Linked DNA regions of Homo sapiens: region 1 is linked to region 2. Evidence: fine-mapped expression QTL. A gene starts in region 2. The other region holds a variant in brackets. All regions are shown on one strand. Distances are from middle to middle. Region 1 holds the start of CMC1 (C-X9-C motif containing 1). Region 2 holds the start of EOMES (eomesodermin).

Region 1 (16,534 bases), 520 kb before region 2:
AGTATACCAAAGCAGGAAATTAACTTATGCAATAAGACATGCCAATTTTAGAACTGTGTTACAACCGCCATTGTGGCCATAATTTCTTAAATGAACAAGTTTCACATTTACTTTATTTGGTAAAACTTCAAGACTGTCTTTGCGCCTACAAGCACAATTTCCCACTGATATCCGGCAGAAAATCAGCAGTGTTATGGGACAGGAGCAGACATTTGAGAAAGTAATAAATGACAGCATACCTGTGGCCTTCTTAGCAATACATTGCCTGATTTACTTTTTTTCCTCATATAAATCTAGAAGATTGTGTAATATTCTCAATCCTATGAATGTTCCTCAAGCCTCTCTCCACCATGTTACTACTGGTTCTTCTTTTATCTTACAATATTTCATAGAATTCCTATAAAGAAAATATAATACTTTGATAATGGAATAGGAGAATTATTTTTATATTGAAGGGTTTTTCACTTATTTCAAAGACTCAGCCTTTGCTCAAATCACATCATCTTTCTTGGTATGGCTTCAGAGCTAATCTGAAGTAAACATGAAAACCAGTTCCATAATATAACTTTTTTGGGGTGGGAGCAATATGGTTTGGATATGGTTTGTCCCCACCAAATCTCATGTTGAAATCTGATCCCCAGTGTGGCAGTGTAAGGAGGTGGTCCCTAATGGGATGTGTTTGGGACACGAGGGCAGATGTCTCATGAACAGCTTTGTGCCCTTCTAGCAGTAATGAATTCCTGCTCTTGCTGGAGTGGACTAGTTCTTCAGAGTGGGCTGGTTCTCAGAGAAAATGACTAGTTCCCAAGAGACTGGATTGTTGTAAAAGTCAGGACACCTCTCACGTTTGGTCCCTCTTCACACATGCCCGCTTCCCCTTTGATCTTCTCTGCCATGTTCTGACACAGCATAAATGTTCTCATCAGAAGCCAAGCAGATGCCATGCTTCCTGTATAGCTTGCAGAACTGTGAGCTAAATACACTTCTTTCTTTATAAATTACTCATCCTAAGGTATTCATTTATAGCAACATAAAACAAACTGAGACAAGGGAAGAGGCAGCATTTCCCAGGATGATCGTCTATCACCTTCACCAGACTGTCTCTGGTTAAACCTTGGCTGAAATTCAAATTAACTTTCAGAACAAAGATTTGCCAAAATGAGGATATTAAGACGAGTGTACTGAAGAATCCAAAGGGAAATCTTAAAGGAGTTTCAAAAATATCCTGAACAATGGTAACAATACTAGAACTATACACACTTCCAAGGTAATATCTGTACTTAATCCTCCTGGGGCAATCCCACAAGGTTCCACCTTTAAAGATAGTGTTTATGATACTGAGTTCTCAGTGCTCATCTCCATCTCCAACTTTCCACATTTTCAACTATCTACTGGTGGTTTCTAAGTCCCACCAGCAGCTCAATTCCAACTTAAATTTCCTACAATGTAAACCTTCATTTTGCCAACCTAGTGGTTATGTTACCCTTCTTACCTGAAAAATCGGCTTATAGTTATATAGTACACAGAAGCAACACGATAAATATTTACAGAAAGAAGAAAAGGGTGGTGGATGGAACTGGTTTACAAACATCATCTCATTTAGAAGCAGATACAAAGAAATTAAGACTCAGAAAGCTCAAAGCAATCTTGCAGCATTACCCGGCAAGTAACAGGTAAAGCCAAACTCTAGTTCAATCTCAGTCTTTATTTTCCATCTTCAACCTCTTATTTTTTGTTATCAAAGTTTACTTATTTAAAACTCAATTCAACATTTCTCCATCCCAAAGTTCTTCCTGACCTCCAGCACTAAAAAGTGATTTCTCCTTCCTCTAACCCCAAGATTTTGCCTGCACTCGTTCTGTTGCTATAATCACACCTGGACTTAAACACATCACATCACACTATATATCCAATCTTCTCCTGCTAGATCAGTGGTTGGCATGAGTTGAATTGTGTTTACCATTCTCCAAATTCATATGTTGAATCCCTAACCCTCAATGTGACTGTATGTGGAGACAGTGCTTTTGGGAGGTAATTAAGGTCAAATGCGGTCATAAAGGTGAGGCCTTAATTCGATAGGATTAGTGGCCTCATAAGAAGCAGAGGGCTCTCTCTCCTTCTCGTTCTCTCCTCCTCCTCCCTCAACCTCCTCTTCCCCCATCCCTCCCCGCTCACTGCCATGTAAACACACAGGGAGAAGGCAGCCATCTGCAAGTCAGGAAGAGAGTCCTTGTCAGCAACCAGATCTCCTTGAATCTTGGTCTTGAACTTCCTAGCCTCCAGAATAGTAAAAAAAATTAATGTACATTTTTTAAGCCACCCAGTCTATGTTGTGTGGGTCACTCAAGTCAGTCTATGGGATTTTGTTATGGCAGCCTGAGTAGACTAAGACAGATTTTGGTACCAGAAGCTCTCAACCCTGGCTGTACCCAAGAACCACCTGAGAGGGCTGTACAAAATTCTTAATGCTTGGGCCCCACCCCAGACCAGTTAAATCAGAAATGCTGGGGTAAAAGCCAGGCATTGATATTTTTTAAGGCTCCCCAAATAATTATAATATGCAGCTAGACTGAGAACTACTGCAAGTAAAAGTTAACTTTAATGAGGTCAGAGACCACGTCTAACTCATCTTTGTAATTCCCTCTAACTCCTAGCATATGGTAAATATGCAATAAAATTGTTTTAACTGTTTAACAAATGACACGTATATTTAAAAGAGTTTTAGTATTTGATAGTTACAGATACACTGTAAACAAATACGTATGTACCTATTATGTACCAATCACCACACCAGGGATTGTGTATACAATAATGAATCAGTCAAGCAAGGTTCCTTACTCTGCAGCATAAACATGTGATACTCTACATTCCAATTAGTCATGTTTAGGTAATTAACATATCTTTTGATCTGTAAGAATCTCCCAGTAACAGTTCTTTAGCAAAACACAATGCAGGATGGTAAACACCACATTCTTAGCAATTTTTTCCTTCAATCTTCTTACTTAAAAATGCAAAAATAGGCTGGGCGCAGTGGCTCACGCCTGTAATCCCAGCACTTTGGGAGGCTGAGGCAGGCAGATCACAAGGTCAGGAGATCGAGACCATCCTGGCTAACACAGTGAAACCCCATCTCTACTAAAAATACAAAAAAATTAGCCGGACATGGTGGTGGGCGCCTGTAGTCCCAGCTACTTAGGAGACTGAGGCAGAAGAATGGCACAAACCCAGGAAGCGGAGCTTGCAGTGAGCTGAGATCACGCCACTGCACTCCAGCCTGGGCAACAGAGCGAGACTCTGTCTCAAAAAAAAAGAAAAAATGCAAAAATAGAACAGAGGATTGTCGGGGAGAATGTTAACTTGGGTATCAATAGTTTTATTTGGGCACAATTTTGTTTGGTCCACTTATATCAAGTACAAGGTAATACTTCTCATATTTTTGACATCTACAGAATTTTACACATATGATTTTAACACCCCAAACAAAAAATTAAAAAAGATACTAATCCAGGCAACAAGACACAAACTTGAATTTATTTCTGTGTGGAGTCAAGAACCCCTTGAGACCTATGACAAGTATTAATATTTAGAATCATAAAAGTTCAAGGCTTGAAGCAACCTTAGCAATTATCTGATACATCTCTTTCCCTACTTCTCATCCTCAAACCTCATATTATGTCATTAAGGACAGGTTAATGACAAAGTCTGAGACAATAAGTCAGTCTTACTAACTCCCAAATTCGGTGTTGATTCCACAACAGTACACTACCTCCCTGGGAGGAGGTGGCCAATCTTCTATAATCTAGGTGAAATTAACTGACCTATCCTTTTATCTGGTCTCTAATGAATTTAAAGAGGTGGATTCATATGAAAAATATTTACTATTTATTACACAGGTAGAACATTCCCATTCTTCAAATTATGTTTTTCTTTATTTCTCCAATTATTTGTTACATATAGGCGCATCATATCTGAATAAAAGGTTTCCTTTTATTCGTCAAAGAAAAGGATTTTATATCTAAAAGGAAAACAACTCTATACATAGGTTATATGATATTTTGGTGGAGTTTTTAATCCTAAACCTTAAAAAAAAATGTTTAACTGGAGGTGGTGGCAATCAGGAAAACTCTCCTAAGAAACTGATTTTAAATTGAGTTGTGAAAAATGAACAAGAATTCAGTAGACCTGGGGATAGGGAAGATGGGAGAAATTCTAGAGAGAACAGCATGTACGATGGCCTAGAAGACAAAAAAAAAAGTACAGCTTAGCCTACCTTAGGTATATCTTAAGCCAGTGTTATTCAAACTTGTTAACCACAACCTGTGACACTTTACTGGATGCAGTACACACACCTGTGTGTATGTATACATGTGTGCAAGTACCCATTCCTATCTGACCTGTCACTATCTGAACTCTCACTACTATCAAAACTCTTACTATCCAACTAAGATTCCTAACAGATTCAGATAAATTATTTTTAGGATAGAGCTGGTATCCCTCCTGCAGCAGAGAATGTTGGAGCATTCACATCTGCAACCTTCTCAGGACTGCCCCTGGCCATGGTAGCCCTTTGCTGTTTTCCTTGCTGCTGTCCCTCTCCCAACTACTACAGTAACCAATGACTGAAAAAGGGCATGAAAGCCCAGCTCCCTTGCCTCCAAGGCACAATAAACTGTATGTACCATGTGGTACACCAGAGCTGATTAGGTTAAGACCTGAAACCACATCCTTGCTCAGATTTTTCCCCTCCCGTCTCCTATTTTCCTTACTCTCTTAAGGGTTTTTTTTTTCTTTTCCTAAAGGCAATCTATTAATAAACCACCCAAATTACATGCAGTTCTAGTGACCAGCTCTTACTCTCTAATACTGTGCCCAAATAAAAGGAACCAGGGCTTCTCAGAGAAATAACTAATTGTATGGATTGGCCAGGGTAGGTACAAGATGAAGCAGTGATACCTTGTGTGAGGGAATAAAAAGGAAATGCTCAAAAAAATGGTGAGAGTATATGACAAAGATCCAGAAGCTAGCTTAAAGGGAACTCTGGCCAAATCTGGGGAAATTTGAACACAAAAAATACTTATGTACATTAACAGAGTACAAACGATTGAAAATACAGCAGTTCATGAGTCCTTACCAAAAATACCAATAATAAATTCATAAATCAATGAAAATGAAACAAAGCAATCTCTTGCTTACAGTAAAATGTCAACAACCATCTAGTAAATGTGAAGGGAGTGTGCTGGAGGTAGAAAATCATTATTTTGCAACCATTATGGGAAAGACTGAATCAGGTAAAAAAAAAAAAAAAAAAAATCAATGGACCCCAAATCAAAGAGAAATATTTGATGAGAAGCAAATATTTACAAGGTCTTAACCTTCCCACAGATTAGTTACTAATTGCAAAACAGAGAAAATACGGCAACAAAACAGGGCAAAACCTTGAGTGGGTAATCAAAATTAACATCACCTACGAGAGACAGATACCCATGTACCTCCAGATGGGATACTCTGGAAAGACACATCATGTATGCAGTATGTGGCTGAGATCAAGGTTATTCTTGATCTAAACAAAAGTCAGATCAACACAAAATAAGGAGAGTTCTGTTTGTCACTCCGTTACCTAAAAACTTGCAGTGTCTTCCCATTGTTCTTAGTATAAAATTCAAAATCCTTGAAATGGTTTACAGATCATTTCATGCTTCAAAACTGAAATCCCAACCCCCAACCCACTGCCATGGCACATACTCCTCTTTGATCTCAATTCTTCTTTCTTATTGTCTTTGCTTAAGCCTGTGTTTTTCAAATTTCACAGAGCAACCATCAGAGAGTTGTTAATCCGATGAGACAAAAATAATGTATTTTCTATGGCAAATATGCTTTTAATTTATAAATATACAAAATGTAGATGTTAGGTCTTTTTTTTTTTGTTCTGAGCCACCAACGTAATTTATGTCTAAGAAGATACTCTAGAGATATGGCGGCAATAATAAAATCAAAATTTTTCTTATAGGCCAGGCAGGGTGGCTTATGCCTATAATCCCAGCACTTTGGGAGGCCGAGGTGGGCAGATTACTTGAGCCCAGGAGTTCAAGTGCTCCTGAGCAAGGAGTTCAAGTGCAGCCTAAGCGACATGGTGAAACCCCATCACTAAAAAAAATAAAAAATTTTTCTAATCAACTCCACAACCTTTTACATATTAAACATACAATGCTCAAAAAAGATTCTTCAAGTTTGTTTACATGTCTAACTTAAAATTTTCTAGTAAATGTAAGGGCTAGTACTGTTCCTGTACCCCTAAAGGTAATTTACCTACATTCCCACAGGAACCACTGAAAGAACCCCAACTTGGAGTACTGCAACCCAAATGTTCCAAGAACATCCATAATTAAATCTTCCCAAGACACATATACCTTAAACACCTTCTCATGGAATGTCATGAAATTCTTGAACCCACTTTCCACCCCCTAAGCCCTATCTCTGTCCCATCTTCCTCCTTTTATTAAGTTCCCGGAAAAAAACAGCAATAGAAGGACACAGGGACACACACACACCTGATTAAGGAAACTTCCCTTAGGCTGCCATGCCCCATTCTGCATAAGTAGAGAATGAATCTATGTTGACAGAGGGAAGAGAACCTAACTAAAAAGGGGAAAGGTCAAAGAAGGGAGAAAGGAATTACTTTAGTTGATAGAGAAAGTGAAAAATCAAATTTATCAGGTGCAGGTTCCTATGGGCCATCATCTGAGAATATAATCATGTCTGAAAATTTGTCCGGAACATGGCAATAAGCAAAGATTGCTGTTATTACTGCTACATTAACAAAAAAAAGGAAAATAATGTAAATAAAACTATGTATAAGCATGTAACCTGCATTTTTTCGCTGGGTTCACAGTTTCTTGAGGAAAACAGAGACCCTACAAAGTTAATTAAAAGTTGCTGCCAAATGAAAATCAAGCTTCTATAAAGATCACAGAAAATACAAAATAAACCAATAGGAAAACAGATTTTGCTAAATGAACCTCAATTGGTGTATCTATTATTCACTTACTCAATATGGGCAAATACCATCGTGGGCTGTACAAAGCAGTAAAACATCAAAATGTGAAACTAAGCTTCAACGTATGAACCAAATAAACACGAAATTAAAAAAAAAAAAAAACTGGCTTCCATACATTTTATTCTGGAATTTAAACAGACAAAACAATTTAGGGAAAAAAAAAAAAACCTTCCTACTTGCTGACTCCACTTTTTTACTCTCCATTGCTTCCATTCCTTCCTTTGATGAAGTTTCCAATAATCACATTGTTAGATTTGACCATGACCTTCCACCCAGCTGCTGACGTACAAAAACTGGAATTATCCCTATTTCCTCTTTTTTTTTTTTTTGAGACGAAGTCTCACTCTGTGGCCCAAGCTGGAGTGCAGTGGCGCAACCTCGGCTCACTGCAACCGCTGCCTTCCAGGCTCAAATTCTCATTCCTCAGCCTCCTGAGTAGCTGGGACTACAGGCGTGTGCCACCATGCCTGGCTAAATTTTTTGTATTTTAGTAGAGATGGATTTTCACCATGTTGCCCAGGGTGGTCTCAAACTCCTGAGCTCATGCGATCTGCCTGCCTCGGCCTCCCAAAGCACTGGGATTAAGGGCATGAGCCACGGTGCCCACTGTTTCCTCCCTTTCTCTCACCATCCTTATTCAATGCAACCACAGGTCCTGTCAATTTCTCCTCATGACGCTGTATATTTCTTTCCATCTGTCTATTACCATCTTGGGCTAAGATACAAACATATTTGGCCTGGACTACTGCTCCTATCCCTTAACCTGTCTCCCTTCTTCCACTTATGACCTGACCCCTCTACAATGCATGCTACCACTGTAGCGAGGATAATAAACACATAAATTATGTTACTGCCCTCTTTAAAAGATTCTAAAGGCATTTGATGCCATTAGAAAAAATCCAAATGCTTTATTATCACAGCCAGCCTTTGAGGACTTGCAGCCTCTGCAATATCTAGGCATTTAGTGACTACCTACTTTCCCAATATCTTTCCTTATGGATCCCCTCCACACTCTGACCCACGTTCAAGTTAAATATTTTAAGTATTTGCTACCTGATGGCCAAGCACACTCTGCCTAGCTTCCTCTCATCCCTCAGATTCCAATTCAAATGACACTTCCTCATAAAGCTCTTCACTGACTAATCTCTTCACCATCTACCACATGACATTATTTTCTTCATGTTTATCACAATCTGTAAAAATGTGTGTGTGTATGTGTGTGTGCCCACGCACGTGTCTGTGTAGGGGGAAAAGGGGGTGTTAATTGTTTTTTCTACCACTAGATAAGCTTTATTGGGAGCAGGAATTTTGTTTGTCCTATGTACTACTGTTCCCTAGGGTCCAGAACAATATGGGACATATACCAGACACTCAACAAGTCTTTGTTTAATCAATACTCAAAAGGTGGCATGGTCTACAGCACTGGACTGGAAATGAAATTACCTAGGTTCTAACCAGACTTGACTCTACCAGCAACTAGCTGTGTGGCCTTGGGTACAACACAAGATTGGAGTGGCTTATGAGTAACTGGAAGGTAAGCAAGTGAAGAGAGCAAGTATGAAGACTTTTTTCCCAAATTTCCTTGTCTAAATTCAAAAAGTGTAGATATATGGAAATCTTTAACCTCTCTCATTCTCAGTCTCCTCATCCGTATGAGATTACTTTAAAGGTCACTTCAAGTTCAGAAGTACCATAATTAGGCTGGGTGCGGTGGCTCACACCTGTAATCCCAGCACTTTGGGAGGCCAAGTCAGGCAGATCACTTGAGGTCAGGAGTTCCAGACCAGCATGGCGAACACGGCGAAACCTCATCTCTACTAAAAATACAAAAATTAGCCGGCCGTGGTGGCGGGCGCCCGTAATCCCAGCTACTCAGGAGGCTGCGGTGGGAGAATTGCTTGAACCCAGTAGGCGGAGGCTACA[G/C]TGAGCCGAGATAGCGCCACTGCACTCCAGCCTGGGCGACAGTGAGACTCCGTTTCAGTAAAATAAAAAAAAAAGATACCATAAATTATATGGGCCTAAACTTGAACCTTCCTTACTCACCCCTCACTTATACTCTACCCCTTCTACCCTCAAGAACCAAATCATGGTAGTCATCCTGAAACCAAGCATCGCACAGTGCACCTTACTATCTAAACCTTTGCTCATAGGGCTGCCTCTTCTCCAGCTCCAACCACTGGAAATTCCATCCCTCAAAGCCCAGATCAACTGCTAACTGCTTCATAACCACCTAGTCCAAAATGAATATGATCATTATGTTCCAGAACTCCTCTATGCTTCAAATTAGAGTACTCCCTGATCTACCACTACCTGCTGGACTAGTCACTTAACTTCTCTTCGCCTCAGTTTCCTAATCTGTAAAATGGAGCTAAAAGGACCTACCATACCACATATTATTGTTGGATAATAGAGAACACTTAGCATGGTAATAACATGTTCAATTAAAACATTATTTCTGTGCTACATATATTTTCCATGCTCCTTGAAGGCTCCGAAAGAGCATTTTCCATTTCTGAATCTCCCAAGTTTGACGCCATTTACCTCTCAATGTTTTGACTTTTTGTATCCATAAAATGAAAGAAATGGACTAGACCAACTACCATTCCCTCCAAAAATGTTATCTATTCCCTTGCAAAAATAGCCTAACGCAAAGATACTGCAGGTGACCTTCCACAAGGACGGGAATTCGAGGGTAAGTTAACTATTGCTGCAAACGGAAGTGGCTGGAAGCAAAGAGATTAAAACAACATTCAAGATTTTGAAGATCCTTTCCAAAGAAACTGACTCCTGCCATAGTGATGGATCCTTTGAAATATGTTTTTAAGTTGGGTTACAAGGATGAACTCGGGGTCCATGAACTCCCAAACAGAAATGTAAAACTGTGCGCCAGAACAAATATACAAATTTTTCTGGGGCCAGAGTGTCTGCAGCATACATTAAATGCATCTGTGACCTTAAGGGGCGAAAAGAGGGTGACAATGAAGAGACTAGTCGCGTTAAGTTGGAAACCACAATGGATGATACTTTAGACAACAAACGCAACCTCAGATAACCATAATCCCCAACAAGTGAGAAGATGACCTCAGACCGGGCGAAGCAGCCGCCGGGTATGAGGAGACGCTGGTGGAAGCAATGCTACCCAGAGCTCTGCACCTTTCCCAGGTCGGCATCCAGCCCGCATGGCCCGCGGCGTGAGACCCGGGGCGAGGCCCCTCGGCAAACCCCGCTTCCCGCCCCGGTACCTGCGGGGTCGAGCGCCATCTCGGCGGGCCGAGAAGAACGTAGCCGCTTGGCGGCTCCGGGGCACGCAGGAAGGGGAGTGGAGGGGAGGGGCTTGGGCTCGGACGCACGTGCGACCCCCGGGAGCTTCCCGCAACAGAAACACGGGCCCTTTGCAAAGCACCGCCAGGACCCGTTCCCTCTTCCTTCCCAGGCTCCTACTTCCGCCGCCCGTTGCGCCTGCGCCTTTCTGGCCCCGCCCCAATCCTGTAACTAGAGTGGAACTGACTTCGCAGGGGGAATGACCAGGAAAGGGGGCGTGTCTGCGTGCCTTTGGGGCGGGACCGTGCAGGACGCGCGCAGCCTCGCTTCAGGAGGCTTGTGCACCAGTTGCAGACCCGGGTCGGCCGTGACTGGAGGCGGACCTGCAGGACTTTGGGACTGTGCCTCACTCGGTGACTGGGCCAAAGTCCGAGCCCCGTCCCCCATACCCGCCTTCGGAGAACCAAATGAATCATCCAGTTCCTTTTTTTTTCTTCGTTAACGTTCATTCATTCATAAATGTCTATTTCATGCCTGCCAAGTTCCAGCCACGGTTCTGAATACGAGGGGAAAATAACAATAAAAATAACGTCCCTGTTCTCAAGGAGCAGTGTGGCAGAGGAGACAAATAAAAGCAACACGCTGTTAAATGTGATAAACGCCACACGCACTAGTTGTTCACAGCTTGTTCTACCATAAAGGTGATATGGTGTGTGCAATATCGTTATTTCTCCTTCAAATCAAAGACTGTGGCTCTCCTAGACGTTAAAATATGGGCTCTAGAAGTACCTCTATGTTGTGAAATAATATCCTCAGGACGTACAGTATGATTTGGGTGATGTTACAAATCCTGCCTCTATCAGTAAAAGCTGTATGTTTTGTGAGAGTAAAATGAAGGAAGGTAATAGCCGTCCCGCTGAAGACCCACTACTCACCTCTTCTCAATAGAAGAAACTTTCTAGGTGGCACTTAGGTTCATTTCCACTCACAAACCAGCCTTCAGAAGTGCTTCCTTGTCAAATTCACGTTTAACTGGCTCGAGCCACGAAAGGGTGAGCTGAGGCCTGGGACAGATGGGACAGATGTTTAGAAAAACAAGGAGCAGCTGCTTCTTCCCTGCAAGGGATTCAGGGCTTTCAAAATGATCCCCTCCCCACCTACCTGCAGTCCCTCCTCCCCTGCTGCTGCTTCCGCCTGGTCAGTTGGCAGAAAAGCTGAGGCAGTTGAGCAGGGCTGGGAAAGTGGGTCTCTGCTCAGCAGGTCTTCCGTTTAAGGGCCTATTTGGGCATAACGGCCCTTATTACAGCTGTAGGTTGAGGTGCCAAGGTGAAGAATTAACGTTTCACTCACCCAGCCAGGGAATCAGGTCCTTTTCCTTGTATATTTTGTAAATATGCTTAGAAATACACCAAAATGACTCTGGTATGCCTCTTTTATTGTTCTGAAGGTGAAGGATTTGATTTAGAAAGCTAAAGCAATCTTTTTGAGGAGATGGAGTATGAAAACACAGGTCAGACACCCATATTCAAGAATTAAACTAAATCTTTCTATATGCAAAAGGGTATTATGGTAAAGGAGGAAAGTTTGATCTGTTATCTTAGTGAGTTGAGTAAGTTCTATTATTTTTCTGGACTTTGGTTTCCAATTTACAAGGTTGTTCTGAGGAATAAATGTGATATCATACAATGCATTTGAAAGACTTTAAAGGACCACTTCTACCATTTCTGCCATAGCTATTACTTGAAACATTACTATTTAACATTTGTTTTTAAATCAACACATTTTTAAAAACACTTAAATAGGCACTATTTACTTTAGCCTTATCCTAAGCAACAGTATCTGTAATATCATGGGTTTTGTGTGCCCCATAGAATGAACTGCTAGACGTATCACACCAGGAGAAGCACTAGCAAAAACGGTAGCCCAATACCTGATACATAATAGTATATCTCTCTCTACTCCCATGTTAAACCAGATACTTTGGGGGGAAACTGAGTCTTTACAATCTATACCTAGGGAAGATAAGTCATTTTTTAAGTTAAGCGAATGTAATTGGCAATTAAAAACAGAAGAAATTTCCTGAGGCATCGCATTATTAATAGGCAATTCTTTGGGTAGTAACTGCAAAAGGAGCTCAAGGAAAGAGGAGAGGACATCATCCTGGAAATTAGGAACAGTGTCTTACCCAGCTGTGATCCCTAGAGCTCAGGCAACGTCTGGTAACTGGTGACCCCACAAAAGCCTTTCTCAAAGGATTGAATGCCGCAATGGTTAGGAAAGACTTCAGAGATAAGTTAGAAGTTATGCTCGGCCTTGAACGATGGGTACAATGAGTAGACAGAAAAAAGGGCATCTCATGCTGGGAGAAAAATGAGAGCAAAAGCATCTGGGATTTGAACTGTTCTTGAAAGAGCATGGTGGAGCATGGCAGAGTACAGGCTAAGGAATGGAATCACATGAACAAAAGCACAGGGGTGGGAAGCACCCAGCTGTGTGGCAGGAAGCACCACGGGGCTGTGTGGCAGGCATGTGGTGGGCAATGCTTGAAACTACTTCAATGCATTTTAGGATTTGGGAAGCTAGGGCAGTTATGCATTGGCTAGAAAAGTCCAGATTCCCACAGCCTTAAACACTAGACAGAGGTGTGTTTGAATGTGTTACTATAAGCAACCAGAATCTGTTGAAGGTTAATATATAGGAAAAGAGCATTGTGGTCAAAATTTTCTAAAGGTGTTTTATAAAAGTTTTGCGCAGGATGAATGTAGGCAGCGAGGAAAGAGCTAAAAGGCAAGCAGAAAAGTAAGGAGGCTATTGTACTGGTTTGGGCAAGATATGAAAAGAGCCTCAACTGGGATATATAAAAGGATGGATGTGAGAGTAATTGCAAAGGAAGAATCTATCCTTTGAAATTGGATTTAGAAGACTAAGACAAAGAGTCAAGATTTCTGGATAATTCCTTTTTTTGGCAAATGTATACAGACAAATGAGAAAATCATGGCAATGTGCCTATTCATGCCTGAAATGATCTGCCTTGATCCTCATTATTGGGGGCTAACAGTGGCGATAATGAAACAGAAAGATCAGTTCAGAGAAATTTGCAGTAATGCAGGGTAATAACAGTAGTTGAACCACAGTGAATTTCTCTTTGTATGTGAAGGCAAAGGAATGTGCAAGTAGAAACAAGTATCTTGATTATTTTTGAGTCAATTCTGAATTGGATCTAACATTCCTTTATGCTATATGTTGATATGCAGCTAGTTGTTTTTTGAAATTGAGATTATCAGTCAGCCCCTCCTTGCTTCTGCCTCTTCTTAGCATCAGAAGTAAAGACTTTTCATCTGCAGCTTGGCTCTGCTACAGATGAGAATAAAACTTGAAATCAATGAGATTTCAAATTTGAGTCAGTAAGAATCAAACTTGAAAGAATATTAGACGCCTCATCTCTACCAGAGGATAGGATTTAGAAGTAGTTCTCGGCCAGAAGATCACTAATCAAGGGTCCCTGGTGGCCCTGCCTACTTTCTGAGCTGTATTATTTAGCACCCAGTTTGCATGGCTTGTGCCTTCTCTGGTTTAAAAGGACTTAGGTCCATGTTGACATTTCTATTATTTGCTAGGGTGGTCATAATGAAGTGCCACAGTCTGGGTAGCTTAAACAACAGAAATATTTTCTCACAATTGCAGGTTAGAAGTCTGAGATCAAAAATGTCGGCAGAGTTGCTTTCTCCTGAGGCCTCTCTTCTTGATTTGTACATGGCATCTTCTCCTGTGTCTTCACATGGTCTTCCCTCTGTGTGGCTGTGTCTCCTAATGTCTTCTTGTAAGGACATCAGCCATATTGGATTGGGACCAACTCTAATGAATATCCTAATGGCCTCATTTTGTCTAAACTACCTCTTTTAAAACCGTATCTCCAAATGCAGTCACATTCTGAGGTGCTGGGGGCTAGGACTTCAACACAAGAATTTTGGGAGACACAGTTCAACTGATAAAAGCATTGAAATATTTTTAAAGGACTACAATTATTCCCTGAATCCCAAATCACTTCACTAGAGCCCTGAGAACCTGTCTAGTGTTAGCCTGTCACCAGAATAAAATACTTTGTCCCTGTTTTCCTGGCTGTTGAATAGGGCCTGTTTTAATCTGACTCAGTTCACCTATCCACTTCAATCAGCTCCTGACTGTCCCTTCTCTACATCTGATTGATCAAAACATGTAGTCAGTTCTCCTTCCTTAATATATCTTTATTTCATCTGCCAATCAGAGTCATAACTCCTAGTCCAAGGTCTGCCCATTTGTGCTGATATTATTGTAATAGTTCTGAACTGGCTCTCTGTTCCTAGGCATTTCTTCCTCCCACTTATTCTCTCTATTCCATGTCACCCACAACAGCAAATATGATTATAAAATTTCTTATATAAAATTCCCAGTAAGAGACAACCTATGGAATGGGAGAATATATTTGCAAATCATACAAATGATAAGGAGCTAATATCCAAAATATATAAGGAATTCAAACAACTCCATAGCAAGAAAACAAATAACCCAATATAAAAATGGGCAAAGGACATTAATAGGCATTTCTCAAAAGGAGACATATAAATGATAAGTATGTGAAAAAATGTTCAACATCATTAATCATCAGGGAAATTCAAATTAAAACCACAATGAGATATCACTTAAGATCTGTTAGAATAGCAGAAATACAGGAAGATAATAAACATTTATGACGATATAGAGAAAAGAGAACACTTACACACTGCTGGTGGGAATGTAAATTAGTACAGCCATTATGGAAAACAGTCTGGAGGCTCCCCAGAAACTTAAGAACAGAACTATCATATGATCCAGCAGTCCCACTACTGGGTATATATTCAAAGGATATGAAAGCAACATGCTGAAGAGATATCTGCACTCCCATGTTTTATTGCAGCATAATTCACAATAGCCAAGACATGGAATCATCCTAAGGGTCCATCAATAGACGAATGGATAAAGAAAACATGGTATATATACACAATGGAATACTGTTCAGCTCTAAAAAGAGAAATTCTGTCATTTGCAACAACATGGATGAACCTGAAGGACATTATGTGTCCTTCAATTTTGAAAGACTCTTGCGTGAAATAAGCTCAGCACAGAAAGAAAAATACCGCATGATCTTACTTATATGTGCAGTGTGAAAAAACCAAACTTATAGAAACAGAGAGTAAAATGGTGGTAACCAGAAGCTAGGGGTTTGGGGACCTTGGGGAAATGTTAATTAAAAAAATAGAAAATTTCCATTAGACAGGAAGGATAAGTTCAAGAGATCTACTGTACATCATGATCACTTCAGTTAGTAACAATATATTGTCTATTTGAAAACTGCTACTCTGTAATAAATTTTATGTATTCCCATTACAAAAAAAAGATAAGTATGTAGAGTAATGCATATGTTAAATAACTTTATTTTGTCATTCCACAATATGTATTTTAAACGTCATGATGTACACTATAAATATATACTATCTAACTTGCCAGTTGAAACAAATACATGCATACATACATACATATATAAATCCTCAGTAGTTCCTTATATAAATAAAATTCAAACCCCTTCTTTTAGTAAGGTTCACAAAACTCTTTATAAACTTAGTCCCAGATTACTATATCAACTTTTCGTAACCAACCTCCTTGTAATCTGCAATTTCTGCTACATTAACTTACATACAATGGTTTATTAAATTACCTGTAAAGACTTCTTTGGGCTATCCTGGAAAAATGGGTAAGAGTTTGTAGTTAATATAAAAACTTGAAACTGATGCAGAAAAAGTATCTAGTTTTCACTAGGACCATTGGAACTAAACAGAGTGATATAATTTGGATGTATGTACTCACCCAAATCTCATGCTGAATGTAATCCCCTATATTTGAGGTGGGGCCTGTTGGGAGGTGATTGGATCATGGGGGCAGATTTCTCATGAATGCTTTAGCACCATCCTCTTGGTACTGTCCTTGCGATAGTGAATGAGATCTTGTGAGATCTGTTTAAAAGTGTGTGGCACCTCCTCTCTCTCCCACTCCTGCTCTGGCCATGTGACATGTCTGCTCCTCCTTCACCTTCCACTATGATTATAAGTTTCCTGAAGGCTCCCCAGAAGCCAAGCAGATACCAGCATCATGCTTCCTATCCAACCTATGAGCCAGTTACACTTCTTTTTGGTATAAATTATCCAG
Region 2 (16,534 bases):
GGGCGCTCGAATACCTGAGTGCCATCCAGACTGCATTTGGAGATCTAAGCCGCCAAAGGCTGGGAGGTGGGGAGGAGGACAAAGGAGGGGGTGGGATTGCGAAACCATCGCCCTTATCCTTCTCTGCGTCGTAAGCGCCAGGAACCCAGCCCCTAAGGGAGCCTTCCCTGACTGCAGCGCCTGACGCCTGGGTTTGAGCCCCTACGTGGACTTTTTTTTTTCTTTTTCCCGGGCTGCGCGTACCAGGGCGTGGGTGGGAGCGATAGTGCATCACCGGGGGAGCATTCGCCACTCGCTCAGAGCCCTAAAAGACTCCTCTGAGGCGGAGTTGGCTGTCGTGCTGGCAAGTGCGCAGTCCCAGAGAGGAGTGTTTCGGGATTAGGGTGTCCGCCGAGGTCCCGCGCTCAGAGGAGGGAGAGACCAGAGGAGCCTTCTCGCTTCCCAGCCCTTGCTCAATTGGAAGGCTTCAAACGTCTAGGGGGAGGCGAGAAGCGCTCCTAAAGTCCAAAAACCCTAGCTTTAGAGCGCGCTTTCATGCAGGAGGCAGGGGCACCGCAAACCCCAGCGAGGAGTAGGAGAAAAGGAAATTTATCTGGAAGGGGATGAGGGAGAGAACTGGCTGTTGCTTTGCCGCGCCTCTCTCTTCGGGACCGAGGGATCAGTTTTCTGTTAAAAGTTTCAGAGTTCCAGGCAGAAGGTACCGCCTTCTCCATCTTCTAGGTCCTCCTGGACTTAAGGTTCACAAGTTGTGTAACCTCAGGCAAGTTATTTTATCTCTCTGAGCCTGGATTTTCTTAACTGTAAAGCGAAGATGCTGAAAGCACCTACCTTCAAGAGGTGGGAGTGAGAGCCTAAATGGGATGATGTATGCCAAGGGCTTGGCCCAGCCCCAGCACTTAGAGAGTGGACAACCCATGTCATGATTATGCCAAGCAAGGATGACCGATTCTACCGCAAAGTTGGGATTTGCAACCGAGTCATGGAGCCCGGTTTTCTCCAGAGACTCATTCTGAAGGTCCACCGGCTGTAGATGGGTACTGAATGCCGTTCACTGGCTTGCTCCGAAGACTCACAGGGTCCCCGTTCCATAGCCTACATCTGTCCCCCCCAAAGAAAACAATGACCCAGCCCTGCCACCATTCACACGTACTTAATCCCCCCACTAGGAGCCCCGCAGCCCAGACCGCTCGAATTCACATCCCCAGGCTACCATTTTCAGCTGGGTGCTTTGAGCCAGGGTCTTCGCCTCTCTAAGCATCACTTTACTCTTCTGTAAAATGGGATTATAACAGTTTAGGGTGCTTTTTCTTTTAAAAGATTATACAAGTAAAGCAGAGCAAAGTCAGCTGCTGCTTTTCTTATTCTCCTCTTTTGTGAATTTGCAGATAAACTCTGTTCTTGAAAAGTCAGCCCTAAGTGGTGGAAAAATGATCCTAGCTGCTCTTTGTTGCCCCTTGGATACGCCTTTACTATGGCTCCTTGATATTCTGTGGGGGGAGGGAGTTCCAGGGACCGTCCCGGCCCCTACCGAGTGATTAAGCAGCCCAGGCCGGCTTGGCCTTCGGGGCCTCCTCCGGACTTCCCTCGACAGCCGCTCTCTGCGGTAGATCTTGCTCTGCACTTGCTCTGTCCCCTTAATTTGCAGATGCCGCCACTGAGGCCCGCAGGGACCCACAGCGAGTGGATCCAGATGGCCTCTTTTTCTGGACATCCAGTTAAGGGTGCCTTCTCCTGGAGCGAGAACCCTGCGGGAGGCTTCCGACTACTCACTTAACTCCTTCGTGGTCAGGCGTTTAACCAAGTAGGTGGAGAACAAAAGCTGAGCTAAATACCCTATTTTCTTTCTTTGACAAGTAATCGGCCGGAACGGCAAAATCCCAGCGGGTGGCGGGAGATACTGGAGGCCTTGGGAAAAACAGAATGCTAATGGCCGCCTGGAGGGGGCGGAAGGCACAGCCTGGTTAGGGCGCCCCAGCCGCCTCGCTTTGAAGTGCACCTCTCCAGCCGAGCTCACCGGGAGGGCACTTGATTTCCCCTTTCGGGGAAATAAAGAAGAGCTGCTAGAGTAACTGGGGACTCTCTTTGGTTCTGACTGACTCCCTCCTGCTTCCTACCCCTGGTTCACGTTGCTTTTGACCTGTTTGCTCCTGGCCTCCCCCATCGGACTGGGAATCCCCGGGAGGAAAAAGACTAAGGTTTATTCATCCTCATTTAGCTCCAGTATCTTAGTAAGAACGGTAAAAAGTAAGCTCAGTCTAAGTGTAATGGCGAGTAGTAGGAAAGACTTCCTATGTAGGTGCCAGGTACTGTTCTAATTGCTTCATATTAATTATGCTGTTATACAAGTGGGGAAATTGAGGCACACAGAAGTTAAAGAGCTTTCCCAGACTCACAAAGATAGTAAAGGTTACAGCCACAAATACATACAATTCTGATACAAGGTTCTGTTTTCTCTTAGAAGTCTGGAAAGGGAGACCTTTAAGGAATGACTGCGACGGTTTTCTATCCTGTTGTCTGTCCTTCCTTTCTCCTTCCCTCTCACTGTTTCTTACTTGGTTATGTTATGGGCTTACTTATTTCTGCCCCCAACCCAAACTTCCTCTCCCTACTTTTCTCACATAGGGTCTGGATTGGGGAATTCCAGCTACCCCTGTCATATTGAAGCCTTGGTCAACAGGATTTGGGTTCTGCCCACCTGTTGTGTAGACATCTTGCTGCACCTGTATCATAGGTGTGCCTTCTGTTGAAACATTAATTTTCATAGACTCTGTCAACTCTGTTAGTAAAGTACAATTGATTTACATTCAGATTAACATTTCTCCTTGGTGACATGGTGTTTGCTTCCCTTAGCAGCTGTACTACAATTCCAGCACTAACTTCTTTTTTTCTATTTTGCTATGGAAGAAGCTTAGCATGGACATACAGACAAAGGCCATGCCACAATGTAAGAACCTTGAGATAGAAAAGGTCTTAAAAATGATATATTTTAAAGTCTGAAAAAGATGAAAATATCATGTCTTTTAATTTAGAAAGATCTTTGTTTTCTTTTTCTCTTAGGAAAAAACTTTAGTCCTTGTGGTTATAAAGCCTAAGACCTGACACTGTCCCTGACCTCTGTTAGCTGTTCCAGCACACAGGTTTAGTAAATCTTTTCATTTAATTGATAAGCACCTACTGTGCTCCAGGCTTTTCAGGGTAGAAAAATGAGCAAGATAGATGGAGCCCCGTATAACTTTCGTATATAGTGTAGCAACAATTAGCCAAACGTTCCCAAAATACACTTTCTTGAGAGTGTTTTACTTTCTTTGCCTAATGTGGCTTTTCTTGTTATTATATATTCCCATATACATGATGAGGAAGAAGAAAAAGATGATGATAATGATGATGATAAAACAGCAGCTAAATACAGAAATTCATTAGCAGTTTAAAAATTACTTTCATAAAAAAGGTAAGTCATGATTTTGTGCTGTTGCCAAAGACTCTTGATTCAATCTTTAGGAGAAGATAATTTATCTTTTGTAATAAGCAACTATTAGTGTGTTTATTTATTAACTTCCATTTCAGGATTCCTTCACCTCCTCATATTTTAACAGTGAACCACAAAGTGCATTAGCAATGTAGATATATAGACTTAAAGCAAAGATAATAGTTTAAATTGGTCATTTTTGTTGAAAAAAATACCATGGGTTTAATATAACACTTCACGTCACACATGTGTAGCTCTGGTTTGGGGTTTTTTTGTTTTGTTTTGTTTTTGTTTTTTTGTAAAGCAAGTGGTCAGTGTATTTCAGTGTCATGGTGAAATATAAATTCTAAAAATTCTTATAAAAGTGAAACTTTTGGTGGGAGTATCTTGCTCTTGTCAGCAGAATCAACACTGCTTGTCTTTGCCAAGATGTTTTATCTTACGGGACATTTGCTTAAAAAAAAATGAAACATGAACAACCTAACGGTGATTAAAGCTCCCTCCCTCTTTGGAAAGCACAGCAGAGGTGGCAGATCTGGCCATCAGAGAACAAAGGGCCAAAGAGTGAACCTGAGTTGGTGAAATAAAATGTAACATCAACAAAGAAAGGGCCATAGATAAATAGTAAAAGGACCAACTCACCACAAAAAACCCATTGACGCTTTCCCAGAGTCCAGGCGAAGCGCTGGTGACCGGTTAATGTTGGAATGTTTTCCTAGGGTTAAAAGGAGAACCGGCAGCAAGTCTGCTCAGAATTTACAAAGTGTTTGAATAACATGGACAGTGTTTTGATAACACGTTTTTAGTGGGGGTGAAAATAATAGTATTTATTGGGACATTTATATGGGCCCCCTTGGTTGTGGGGGGTGGGTGGCACATGGGGAGAGGTAAACCTTATATCATTGCACTCATCTATAACTCACCTCTGTAACATACCCATATGTGTGTAAATGTATTTCTTATATAATAATCCTGTTCCAACCAAATGCTTCTCAGTTTTGCTTTTAAAAGATCAATGCATGGCTAGTGGTTACCTTTAAGGGGGAGAAAGAGATAAAGAGGTCATCTGGTCAAGTTGGCAATAACTTTGACCAAGACAGTGGTATGAAGTTGGTATTATTCCTCAGAACAATAGAGCGTGAGATCTTTAATGTGTTCACACACAGACTTGGCCTTGGCTTCCTGGTAGCCTTTAAAGATTCCTGCTTGCTCCATCTCAGGCTGAAAGGTACAAGATTTGAGTTAATCCAGCAGGTATTTGGGTCTGGGGTTTCAAGGGGTTTCCATGTTTCCTCCCCAGTGTTGATGTTTTTGTTCAATGTATTCCAATACACTGTCAGTTGAGCCACATAAAACCAGGCACCTTTCAATAAATGTCTCATTTGGATTTCATGAAGCTTGGGGTGTAATTGAAATCAAACAGCAAACAGGCTGGAAGGCTCTGTTATTTGCCCACCCAGTCTAAGGAGGGTGCTGCCTGACATGTTCACTTAAGCCACTGCTTTGGCTTTCTTTTCTATTCCTACTTCTGGAAAGGAGTGCCTGGATTTTAAAGTGTGGCTGGGACACGTGAAAATATTTTTTATGTCTCTTCCCCTGGCTATAATATTGAGCCAGCAAAAGGAAAGCCCATTTCAAGCAGGAAATCACAGACTTGCTCATCTATAACTCTCCAGGCATTCTAGACTAGTATATTCTAAATGTAATAATAATAATAATAATGTGATTAGCTAATTAACACAGAGGAACCATTAAATGAGATTTTTTATCTTCAGCCAGAAAAAAAAAGATCTGTAGCTGAAACAGTGCTTTTCATTATTTTAAAGAGAATTTGTAACATATACTTACAAATGTAATGTAATACAATATGTAATATAATATTATGTACATATTTTCCATGTTCCAAAAATCCTGGGTCCTAGAGTAGTTTTATAGAAACTGAATTTTTATTCTCTTTGAATTTGTCTTTGCTCCTCCATATGTAAAATGTGTTGAAGTTTGGGAAAAATAATAGATTTACTGGGGAAGTGGGTAGATATCAACCAAAATTTCCTGTCCCCAAGAATCAATACAAATTCTAATTATATACATCGTGTGTATATTTAATAATTAGGTGGTGCTCATACTGAACTCATGCGCTTTCAAAAGCTTGCTCTGGGGCTGGAATAAAATCAACGCTTTCTGATGTGGCTCGGGGGACAGCTGGCCCGCGTTATTCGCGCCAGAGTGGGTCGGAACGATGCCTGTTGCCTGCGATGGCACTTTGCCACGCGAAGCGCTTCCCTGGCTGCGTCAAAAGCATTTTGAAGGGACGCCGAGGCCCGCTTCTTGCTTTGTTAAAGCGCAAAACTGTCATGTACCTTTGGCCACCCTAGCTCCAAATAACGTGAGATTAGGTCTCACATTAGGGAGATTTCTCATCCCTACTTTTGCCTTAGATATCTTGCAACTCAGGTAAAGGATAATGTGGAGGATCCTACGAATAGTAATCAGGACCCGCTAGCCCAGGGATAGATACGTCGTCCAAGCCGCCCAAGCTGCACGGCCTCTTTCTTTCCTTGAGCTCGCGTACCCCTCACGGGATCTTCACGTTGACAGTCATGAGGTATTCACAGAGCTATACTACTTGAACAATCAATGTTCTAGACTTCCTTGGGTCAAAATAACACTAAAGCAGGGGAGGAAGGCATGGACAATGTAGTGATCAAAACAGCCGTGCCAAACACTAACTATACTGATGACACAAAACGCAGGAAGCGCAGGGCAGAACGCGCTCAGTACCAGCTTTCTGGCGATCTGCTCCTGGCCACTCTGTCCCAGGACCTACAAGGCCACCGCCCCAGCCCACTAGTCTCAACTTGCCCCCTCCCCTGTGGCTGTGCCTTGACCCTGAAAATCTTCGCGCACTCCTGGGTTTCACCACCACACACACGCGAGCGCGCGAGCGCGCGAACACACACATCAAAAAAGAAAAAAAAAACCGTGATAAATGCCCTGGAGAGTCTAAGTGCATTAAGGACCTCGTTCTCGGAGACCCCAGACATGCCGATGTTGGTGCTGCTGTGGTTGGAAAACTGGGTTGGAAAGCTTCGCACTGTTCTACACTTGCGTGTGCGCACTCAGCAATCCTTTGGCCATCTCATCTGTTGTGGGCGAAGAGTTTCCCGTGTGATCGCGTTCGGTTGGGGAAGCAGAGTCCCGACATCTCAGCCGGAAAATGCGCTCCCGGAGCGATTACTGGCGGCGTCTGTAATTGCTTATTAACAGCGAATATTCAGGCTTCTCCTTATCCGCAACGAAACGTGCCCCCCGCTTCCGTAATAATGAAACGATAAAATATGACGGCCCCGCTCTTGAATCTATCTGAGGAAACGCAGCGAAGAAACAAGCAGCTGGAGTTTAATTCAATATCAAACTGATTATTTCACTAATTATTCTACCTTCTGTATTTGCCGCAGAGCAGAGGCGCAGGGAATCCTAACTGTGGGGCTGTTAGGGAAGCTTTGTTTCTTGGTGTCAGGCCTAACTGAAGATGGTGGTGAAGGGACGGAATCCGGGATCAGGAAAACTGAGCAGAAAGGATTTTAAATTGTGGGGAATAAAAGTGACTGTCTCCCCGAAAGCAGTTGTGTTGGCGTGAGTATGAAGTTGGTGTTAGCTCGCTTAGTTTCACTCTTGTCCTGTCCCCAGTACCCTGTCCAAGCTTCTGATTTAGAAGCTGAGAGCTTAGGTCCTCCAGGATGGCAATGTGCTCTGGCCGTCCCCGGAATCCCAAAAGCTTAGCGCGAGTTTCCTCTCTACAAACCTTTCCCACTGGGTAAAAGGATGGGAACAAACAAAAAGTGGTTCTGTGCGTTGAAGGCCAGGGAGTTTGCCTTCGACAAGAGGAAGGTGTGCTTTGAAGTTACAGCTTCCGACGAGGAAAGAGACTTCCTTGGGCCTGTCTCCAACTTGCCCCAGTTTCCCCAGCCTCCGGGACGGGCGCTTCCCTGCAAGCTATCAGCTTGAAGAGTCTTTCTCTCTCTGGCCTCTAAAATCTGCTCCAGCCATCTCATTCCTCCAGCGGAGGGCTGAGATGACTAATGCGCCAAGGGTGGACACCGCTATGGAGACCCCAAACTTTGTCCCCCTAAATTCCGGCGAAATTACAGACACCAGGATTGATTATCACAGCGGGACGCAGTCTCAAAAAAAAAAAAAAAAAAAAAAAAAAAAAAAGGAAAAGAAAGTCACAGGCGACTTGATCCAATTAGTAAATGCCTAATTGAATTAGTGTCACCTCCACCAGCCAATAGGAGGGTCTCCGGGCTGTGAGGCCGGGAAGCCCCTCCCTGGCCGCAAATATATAAAGCAGCTAGTGACAGCCCATAAGTTTCCAAGTGGTCAACTTGACCGATGCTTTGGCAATTGAAAAAGGGCAGAAAGGCGCGGGCTAGTGGGTGGATGGGGACAAAGATCTAAGTCACCTTCTTCCAGCGTGTGAGCCTGGGAGGAGGGTGGGGGTCCTGAGGAGCAAGAGGTACGAGGAAGGAAAAGGAGAGGGCTTCTGGGTTAGTTTCCACCTCCTGCTTTCCAACTCACGGCGCTTTCCTTCCGGAAAGGACGCTGGATTCAGGGCGCGCCAGTACGCGCAGTAGCGGCCCGCGAGTCGGCAGGTGGGTAGCCCCGGCGCGGGAGGAAGGGGAAGTTACCTTCCCCTCGGAAGAGGGCGCTGGCTCCCCCATCCTGCCTTTATAATAAGGCCACCGGAGGAGAGGAAGCAGCCAGCTGCCGTCTGCGCTTTGCAAAGCATGCAGTTAGGGGAGCAGCTCTTGGTGAGCTCAGTGAACCTGCCTGGCGCGCACTTCTACCCGCTGGAGAGTGCGCGAGGCGGCAGCGGCGGGAGCGCTGGCCACCTCCCCAGCGCGGCCCCCTCTCCTCAGAAGTTGGACTTAGACAAAGCGTCCAAGAAGTTTTCCGGCAGTCTCTCCTGCGAGGCGGTGAGCGGGGAGCCCGCAGCCGCCAGCGCAGGGGCCCCCGCGGCCATGCTTAGTGACACCGACGCCGGGGACGCATTTGCCAGCGCTGCGGCAGTGGCCAAGCCGGGGCCCCCGGACGGCCGCAAGGGCTCCCCCTGCGGGGAGGAGGAGCTGCCCTCCGCCGCTGCAGCCGCCGCCGCCGCCGCCGCCGCGGCTGCGGCCACTGCGCGCTACTCCATGGACAGCCTGAGCTCCGAGCGGTACTACCTCCAGTCCCCCGGTCCTCAGGGGTCGGAGCTGGCTGCGCCCTGCTCACTCTTCCCGTACCAGGCGGCGGCTGGGGCGCCCCACGGACCTGTGTACCCGGCTCCTAACGGGGCGCGCTACCCCTACGGCTCCATGCTGCCCCCCGGCGGCTTCCCCGCGGCTGTGTGCCCACCCGGGAGGGCGCAGTTCGGCCCAGGAGCCGGTGCGGGCAGTGGCGCGGGCGGTAGCAGCGGCGGGGGCGGCGGCCCGGGCACCTATCAGTACAGCCAGGGGGCTCCGCTCTACGGGCCGTACCCTGGAGCCGCAGCGGCGGGATCTTGCGGAGGACTGGGGGGCCTGGGGGTTCCAGGTTCTGGCTTCCGTGCCCACGTCTACCTGTGCAACCGGCCTCTGTGGCTCAAATTCCACCGCCACCAAACTGAGATGATCATTACGAAACAGGGCAGGTGAGCGCAGCGTGGAGGGGCCCCTGGGTTCGGGGATAAAGGGTGACGTGTGGTCCTGGGGAAGGTCCGGGATGAGGGAGCTGAACCCAGTTGTTCCGCGCGGTGCTTAGAGTGTTTCACCGCGCGCAATAAATCTCCGTAGACACCGCATCTCCAATGCGGTGTCCCTCTGTGTCAGTGCCCCGGCGGCTCTTGCAGGGTGCCAATGTTACGGCTGTACACCGCTTTTCCCTCCCATCATCCTCACCTGAACAGACCTGGAGGAGGCGGAAATGGAAATTAGGGCATGTCCACAAGCTGGATTCGTTAGATCCTCCTGCTCGGCGGTATGCTTGTGCATGCCTGCATGCCGGCAAGGAGCCACGGATAGGGAAGGCTCAAGAGCTGGCCACCTGAGCGCAGTAGATGGGCTCCCGCAGTTTTAGGCGCCAGGGTCTCCACGGGGCGTCTCCGGGAGGTGGGCATGAAGGCTAGAGCGCCGGCCTCGGAAGCTCGGTCGGAGTAGGTGGTTAGATCTGCCCTGGAGCCAGACCTGGCTCGGGTTCGGTGCGCGAGAAAGTTCTGATATACATCCAACTGCTAACACTGGCTACTTCTGGGGAAAGGGAGGGGTGGGTGCTGAGAGAGGGGCACTCAAAGGGGACTTTTAGCCTAAAGTTTTAATATATATTTTTAACAAGAATAACCTAATATTGTTCTCTGGTACTTTTCAAAATGGTGCATTTAAAAATTAGTAGTTTTTAACATTCTAGGAGAAAAATTTTAAGAGCGTCTGAAAGGGCCGAGAATATGAGCCTTCGGAAGCACGCGCGAATTTGGAATATACCGATGTTGGGGCAAGCTTTTTTTTTTTTTTTTTTTTTTTTTTTTTTTTTTTTTTTTGAAAAGACGGAAAGGTTCCAAGAGTTGCCAACTCAAAAATATTTTACATAGTTTCAGACCACTTGATCTACCAGCATTCTGTTCACTGCAAACTTTTAAATGTGTTCCGACCCTATCCCAGGTGTCTGGGGAACCCGCTGGGGCCTGGGCCTGTTCTAGGACATCCCAATTAAAATCGATTTTTCTGATTCTATTCCCTTGCACAGGCGCATGTTTCCTTTCTTGAGCTTCAACATAAACGGACTCAATCCCACTGCCCACTACAATGTGTTCGTAGAGGTGGTGCTGGCGGACCCCAACCACTGGCGCTTCCAGGGGGGCAAATGGGTGACCTGTGGCAAAGCCGACAATAACATGCAGGGTGAGCAGAGAAGAGGCTCGGGCCGGGGAGGAACGGGCGGGAAGAAATCGTAACCCTCGACTCACACAACTCACATTTAAATGTAGCACTTTTTTTTTCCCCTTCCATTCTGAGGCCTAGAGGTGTTAGTATGAGTGTCTTTGAGTTGCTTGTTTGACGGAGAGGAGAGTTTGCTAAGTCAGATTTCTTGTCTGCCAATATGTAGATATTTAGAACCTTTAACTAAGACATCACCCCACCCCCCAATCCCTACGTTTAACAAATCAGTAGTCATAAGCTCTCCAGGTGGGAAGGGCTCCTGGGATTCTAATGTTCACTTGAGAAAGCCCAGCCAAAGTTTAGTTCACCCATAAATATCCAACTGTCTTCCATCGGATGTTGCCCTTACAGCTTTAGAAGGCCCCAAATTGACCTTCAAGAGTCATCTCTTGTTAGCTCCGTTTCTAAATTCTGAAATGCCATTCAGGGGAGTCCCTAGTGCAAGGAAGGTTGGAAGCACAGGGGCCTGGGAGGGATATGGATGTAGTCCTGCTGGTCTCCACTGGCCTCTTTAAGCAACTTTTACTGGGAGACCAACTGTAAGTCTAGCTCTTATATCTTGCTCATAGCTAAGAGACATCCCTCCGCTTTCTCCATTTGTAAACAGCCCTATATGCTTGGGTTTTGTGTTTTGTTTCATTTTCTCTTAGGCAACAAAATGTATGTTCACCCAGAGTCTCCTAATACTGGTTCCCACTGGATGAGACAGGAGATTTCATTCGGGAAATTAAAACTCACCAATAACAAAGGCGCAAATAACAACAACACCCAGGTAGAGTGACAGAGCAGGAGGGGATATCTTCTGGCTTTGACTATAAGGCTTTTTTCTAATAAGAGTCCCTACTCTTTTCACTGTATTTATAATATTTGCATTTGTGACCTGTTTGCTCGCCTATTTCTAACCATTTTTGTTCTTTTGACCTTTCTCATCTTCACTTTCTTATTGGATTTCGATAACAGTGAGTTGACTATTAAGAACAGAAATAGCGAAGTATTTTGGGAATTTAGGAAACCAAGAGGAAAGCATATCTATCACAACCACATACCCAGCTATGATTTAAATTTCAAAAAAAAAGGGGGGGGGCAATAATGAGACCTTTAAACTTGCAATAAACAAAGCTGTTAGTGAGGAGCATTTAGAAGTCCAATACCAAAATACATAATTTGTCAAAATCTAATTTTGTTGAACCACTAAGAGGCTTTTTAGATTTAGCAATTTTTTTCTGTACTCTTTCCAGATGATAGTCTTACAATCCTTACACAAATACCAACCCCGACTGCATATTGTTGAAGTTACAGAGGATGGCGTGGAGGACTTGAATGAGCCCTCAAAGACCCAGACTTTTACCTTCTCAGAAACGCAATTCATTGCAGTGACTGCCTACCAAAACACCGATGTGAGTGTCCCAGACATCTCAAGAATCTCTAAAGCTAAGGTCCAGCATGATAAATCACTCAATGACTGTTTTTCTCCCCTATCTAGATTACTCAACTAAAGATTGATCATAACCCCTTTGCAAAAGGCTTCAGAGACAACTATGATTCGTAAGTGCAGCTTTTATCCACACTTGCCTGATCATCTCTGAGCAGGACATACATCAACAGGCACTTTGCTGATAATGTATTTTAGGAAGAGCTTTTACCTTTGGGATTTTTACATATTTTTCTTTTTCCAAAATTTTTTCCTTTACTAATCTTGCTTTAGATTTTTCTCAGAAAGGTTGTGTTAATTTCTGAAGAAATGTTAAGGACTTAAAAATGAAGAGGTTTTTTTAGCATTTGAGTGAAGATTTGAAATTTTAAGAATCTGCATTTATATATACCTTTCTTTTCATTTGATCCATTTTTTTATCCTCCCAAGAGCAGATATTATTACTCTCCCCCACCCCCACTTTTTTTTTTAACATAAGAAAAAACTGAAACTAAGAGGATGTAATTTCACAACACGAAATAGCAAGGCCCTGCTCTTTTTAAAATCTGAGTTTTCTACCGCCACAGCCAGTGTTTTTTCCATCACATTGACAAAGGAGGTTTGATCTGAGTTTTTCGTGTTCTAGGACTAGTAAAGGTAGATTTTCTATAGTTTAAATACTTGATGCCTAGGAGGAAACTTTTTCTTGCATGGTGGGAAATTTTTCCCAATAAGCCAAGAGTCCAGCTAAAATGGGCCAGTGCATCTCCTGCCTCTGTTCTTTCAGCCCAACAGACCAGCACTTTCGGTGTAGATAACCAACACAAGCCTTTTTCATTTCTGGGAGGTGGTTTGTTTGGGGACAACATTAGGGTTTTTTTTTTTTTTTAAGTGTTTCTCTTTATATTGTAGCATGTACACCGCTTCAGAAAATGACAGGTTAACTCCATCTCCCACGGATTCTCCTAGATCCCATCAGATTGTCCCTGGAGGTCGGTACGGCGTTCAATCCTTCTTCCCGGAGCCCTTTGTCAACACTTTACCTCAAGCCCGCTATTATAATGGCGAGAGAACCGTGCCACAGACCAACGGCCTCCTTTCACCCCAACAGAGCGAAGAGGTGGCCAACCCTCCCCAGCGGTGGCTTGTCACGCCTGTCCAGCAACCTGGGACCAACAAACTAGACATCAGTTCCTATGAATCTGAATATACTTCTAGCACATTGCTCCCATATGGCATTAAATCCTTGCCCCTTCAGACATCCCATGCCCTGGGGTATTACCCAGACCCAACCTTTCCTGCAATGGCAGGGTGGGGAGGTCGAGGTTCTTACCAGAGGAAGATGGCAGCTGGACTACCATGGACCTCCAGAACAAGCCCCACTGTGTTCTCTGAAGATCAGCTCTCCAAGGAGAAAGTGAAAGAGGAAATTGGCTCTTCTTGGATAGAGACACCCCCTTCCATCAAATCTCTAGATTCCAATGATTCAGGAGTATACACCAGTGCTTGTAAGCGAAGGCGGCTGTCTCCTAGCAACTCCAGTAATGAAAATTCACCCTCCATAAAGTGTGAGGACATTAATGCTGAAGAGTATAGTAAAGACACCTCAAAAGGCATGGGAGGGTATTATGCTTTTTACACAACTCCCTAAAGAGTTATTTTAACCTCAAAAATTAGCTAACTTTTTGCAGATGGACTTGGTGGTGTTTTTTGTTGTCTTCTTTGCCTAGGTTGCCAAAAAGATGTTTGCCTTCCACCTTGATGCATCCTGTTTTGTGCAATTCTCTAAAAGAAGGTGCCAAAGCTTTTTGATTGCTGCAGGTAACTGAAACAAACCTAGCATTTTTAAAAAATAAGATTAATGGAAGACTTTAAGGTATTTTAAAATTCGAAGGGTATCCAAGGTTCTGTATTTATTTATTGGGGAGACACTAACCCTTCAAAGAAGCAGGCTGTGAACATTGGGTGCCCAGTGCTATCAGATGAGTTAAAACCTTTGATTCTCATTTCTATTTGTAAATTCTTAAGCAAATAGAAGCCGAGTGTTAAGGTGTTTTGCTTCTGAAAGAGGGCTGTGCCTTCCGTTTCAGAAGGAGACATTTTGCTGTTACATTCTGCCAGGGGCAAAAGATACTAGGCCCAGGAGTCAAGAAAAGCTTTTGTGAAAGTGATAGTTTCACCTGACTTTGATTCCTTAACCCCCGGCTTTTGGAACAAGCCATGTTTGCCCTAGTCCAGGATTGCCTCACTTGAGACTTGCTAGGCCTCTGCTGTGTGCTGGGGTGGCCAGTGGGACTCAGGAGAGAGCAAGCTAAGGAGTCACCAAAAAAAAAAAAAAAAAAAAGGGAGAATTTAAAAGTGTACAGTTGTGTGTTTAGATACACTATAGAATAATGTGGTATATATTGTACAAATAGTCTACATAGGTGTCTGGGATAATGTAAAACTGGTGCTTTGGCTTTGTAAAGAATTTGCAAATCACTTAACAGCTGCAGGGGCAAGGGGAGAGTTTCATCATCCCCATGATATTTGGGAATATTCTGTTTACTTCTTAGATAGTTAAGAATGTATTCAGCTACTATGTACTAACTTGAACCGTGTTTAAGGAAAACTCCTATTTCATCCTCTTCTTGCGCCATCCCCTCTCCCTAACTTGGTAATGTGAAGAAACTAAAACCTGATACCACAGCTCCTATAGGCATTTTAGAGATCTTGGATTTTTATGTACAGTCTTAGTCATTTTTAATAAATGTGGTTCAGTAAGGGAACGGACATAGCTCTGTCTTCTGTGCTGTTGGGGTTTTCATCTTTGCTTTAAAGATCTCATTTTGCTTCCTCCTGTATCGTTTTCAGCTTTAACAGTGCCTCACCCATCCCCTACCTCCACGGAAGGCTCTAGAATCTCTAACTGGATACTGTAGTCATGCGGGGGTGGGGATGTTTTGTTTATCTTCTTTTTTCCTTGAAGTGGAATGGGGCTATTTCCTTACCCCACTGGGAAGTCTGGACAATGGGTGTTGGCGGGGCGGGGGAGGGGGGCGGGGGAACGGGGGAGGGAAGATTGCTGCCGATTGCCCACATCAGACTTAACCAAGCCTCGAAAACCTCCGCTTCTGGCTCTTGGAGACCAGGCTCTGTCAGAGCGCCTGGCCACTAAGTTCTCTGGGCTTTTTTCTAGGCTTACTTGGGGCCACCCATCCTTAGGCCCACCTAGGCTCCCTGGGAACCCCCGTGGCCCTTTGAGCGCCCACCAGTTCAGGGTCCCTGGGGCGCGGCGGAGCGGGGGGCTGCACACAGCTCAGCTTCTGCGCCCACCTGCGGCTTTCTTCTGAACCCAGACGCTGCGCACCCGCCGCCGCCGGCTGCCGGCCTCAGTAGCTGCAGTCAAACTCCGCCCGGACTCGGTCTGAGGCGCAGGCTAGGGACGGGCGTGGCACTTACAAAGGAGGATTCCAGTCGTTCCGTGCACTGCCGCTCTGCAAACAGTGACCTTGGAGCAGTTCACCTTGCGCTTAGTTCCGTTTATTTGGCCCACGCTCCACGGGAAGACGAAGGACAGCCCATCCCCTGGCTGAACCCTGGGAGGTCCAAAGAGTGGGGTGGAGGGTCCCCTTTGTCCCCCCAGCCAGACGTCCCGCCAGGCTTATCTGCAGACGGCTTCAGGCCCAGATTGCAAACCTTTCCAGCCCCCTCCTGGACCCTCCCGGGGTAAAGGTCTAGCTGGGAGGATCATTCTGCTAACTGTGTAGCGCGGAAATGCAGCTGCTAAGAGGATTAGCTGCTGGGAGGCGAGCAATCAGCCGAGACCTCCTCCCCTTCTGCGCCCAATTAAGGCCGCCAGGACCTTGTACCTCGACTGTCCTGTCTCCCTTCCCCTCCGTCCCTCTGGGGCCCGAGTTCTTCCCGCGCCACCCGTGACCTTGGGGGCTCGAACTCCTGCTCCGCGTTTCCGAACGGCCTACTCAAAACACTTTGGCAAAGGCGCCCCGAACTTTACCGGGGAGCCAAGGACAAAAGCGTTGAAGATGTGCTTTTTAAGATATATGTACTGTGGATGACTGATTTAGATTCCGGAAGGGAGACTCATAGCCCCCCTATCCTGGTCAGCGCCTTCCCCACACCCCCAACAGCCCCCTTACATCTGCATCCAACCACCGAATATTGGGAGATGCGATGGAATTTCGAAAACAGTGCTCTCCTATTTCTGCCCTCTAGAAAGCCCCAAAGTGCTAATCACTGCCGGGATATAGCAGATTCTGGCCCTAGTCTATTTCGGGTCCTGTATGTTTTTGCATCGTACAGTAAAAAAGAACCTGGTACTTGTGAAAAGTCCCTCACAGTGTTTAATAGAAACGTAAGTGGCTGAGTGGCCCCAATTAACACCTTATGATAAGGCATTCCTAAGATGGAGTGTCAGACACCAAATTGTGAAGAGATGTATCTAATTAATCCTCCTAGGATGACACCGATAAACAAGCCTCTATTTAAATAAAGATCAAGGGCTCGGCGCCCGGTTTGTTTACATTCTCCGCCAGGGTCTCCTAGTATGCACCGGTGCAGGCGGTGTTCCCTGCCCAGGGAGGAGATACTGGCTCGGGGGTCTGCTGGCTCGTCCTGGTTCACATCTCCGTTCTTGCCCCAAATAAACAAAAAACCACAATAAAATCAATAAATTGCAATGAAACAGGAAAAAGCAGTGCAAAG

Evidence for each region. PIP is the estimated chance that this variant, and not a neighbour inherited with it, causes the effect. A credible set is the group of variants that fine-mapping cannot tell apart.
Region 1: its variant is the best candidate, but not a certain one, in a credible set for the expression of EOMES in whole blood (INTERVAL, PIP 0.89).

The regions. Positions count from the first base shown.
Region 1 is chr3:28,235,575-28,252,108 of GRCh38, reverse strand. It overlaps CMC1 (C-X9-C motif containing 1), which reads right to left and starts at 10,490. Exons shown (of 4, transcript NM_182523.2): 1 at 10,297-10,490. The coding sequence starts at 10,315. RefSeq lists a silencer at 10,198-10,277. The variant G/C (reference allele first, on the strand shown) is at 8,978.
Region 2 is chr3:27,714,017-27,730,550 of GRCh38, reverse strand. EOMES (eomesodermin) reads left to right here and starts at 8,228. Exons shown (of 6, transcript NM_001278182.2): 1 at 8,228-9,137; 2 at 10,226-10,380; 3 at 11,070-11,191; 4 at 11,658-11,816; 5 at 11,903-11,964; 6 at 12,743-14,598. The coding sequence starts at 8,257. The coding sequence ends at 13,481. LINC02084 (long intergenic non-protein coding RNA 2084) reads right to left here. Exons shown (of 2, transcript XR_007095851.1): 2 at 16,151-16,534. RefSeq lists enhancers at 1-465, 466-1,395, 1,396-2,327, 5,173-6,047, 15,566-16,462 and a silencer at 8,593-8,802.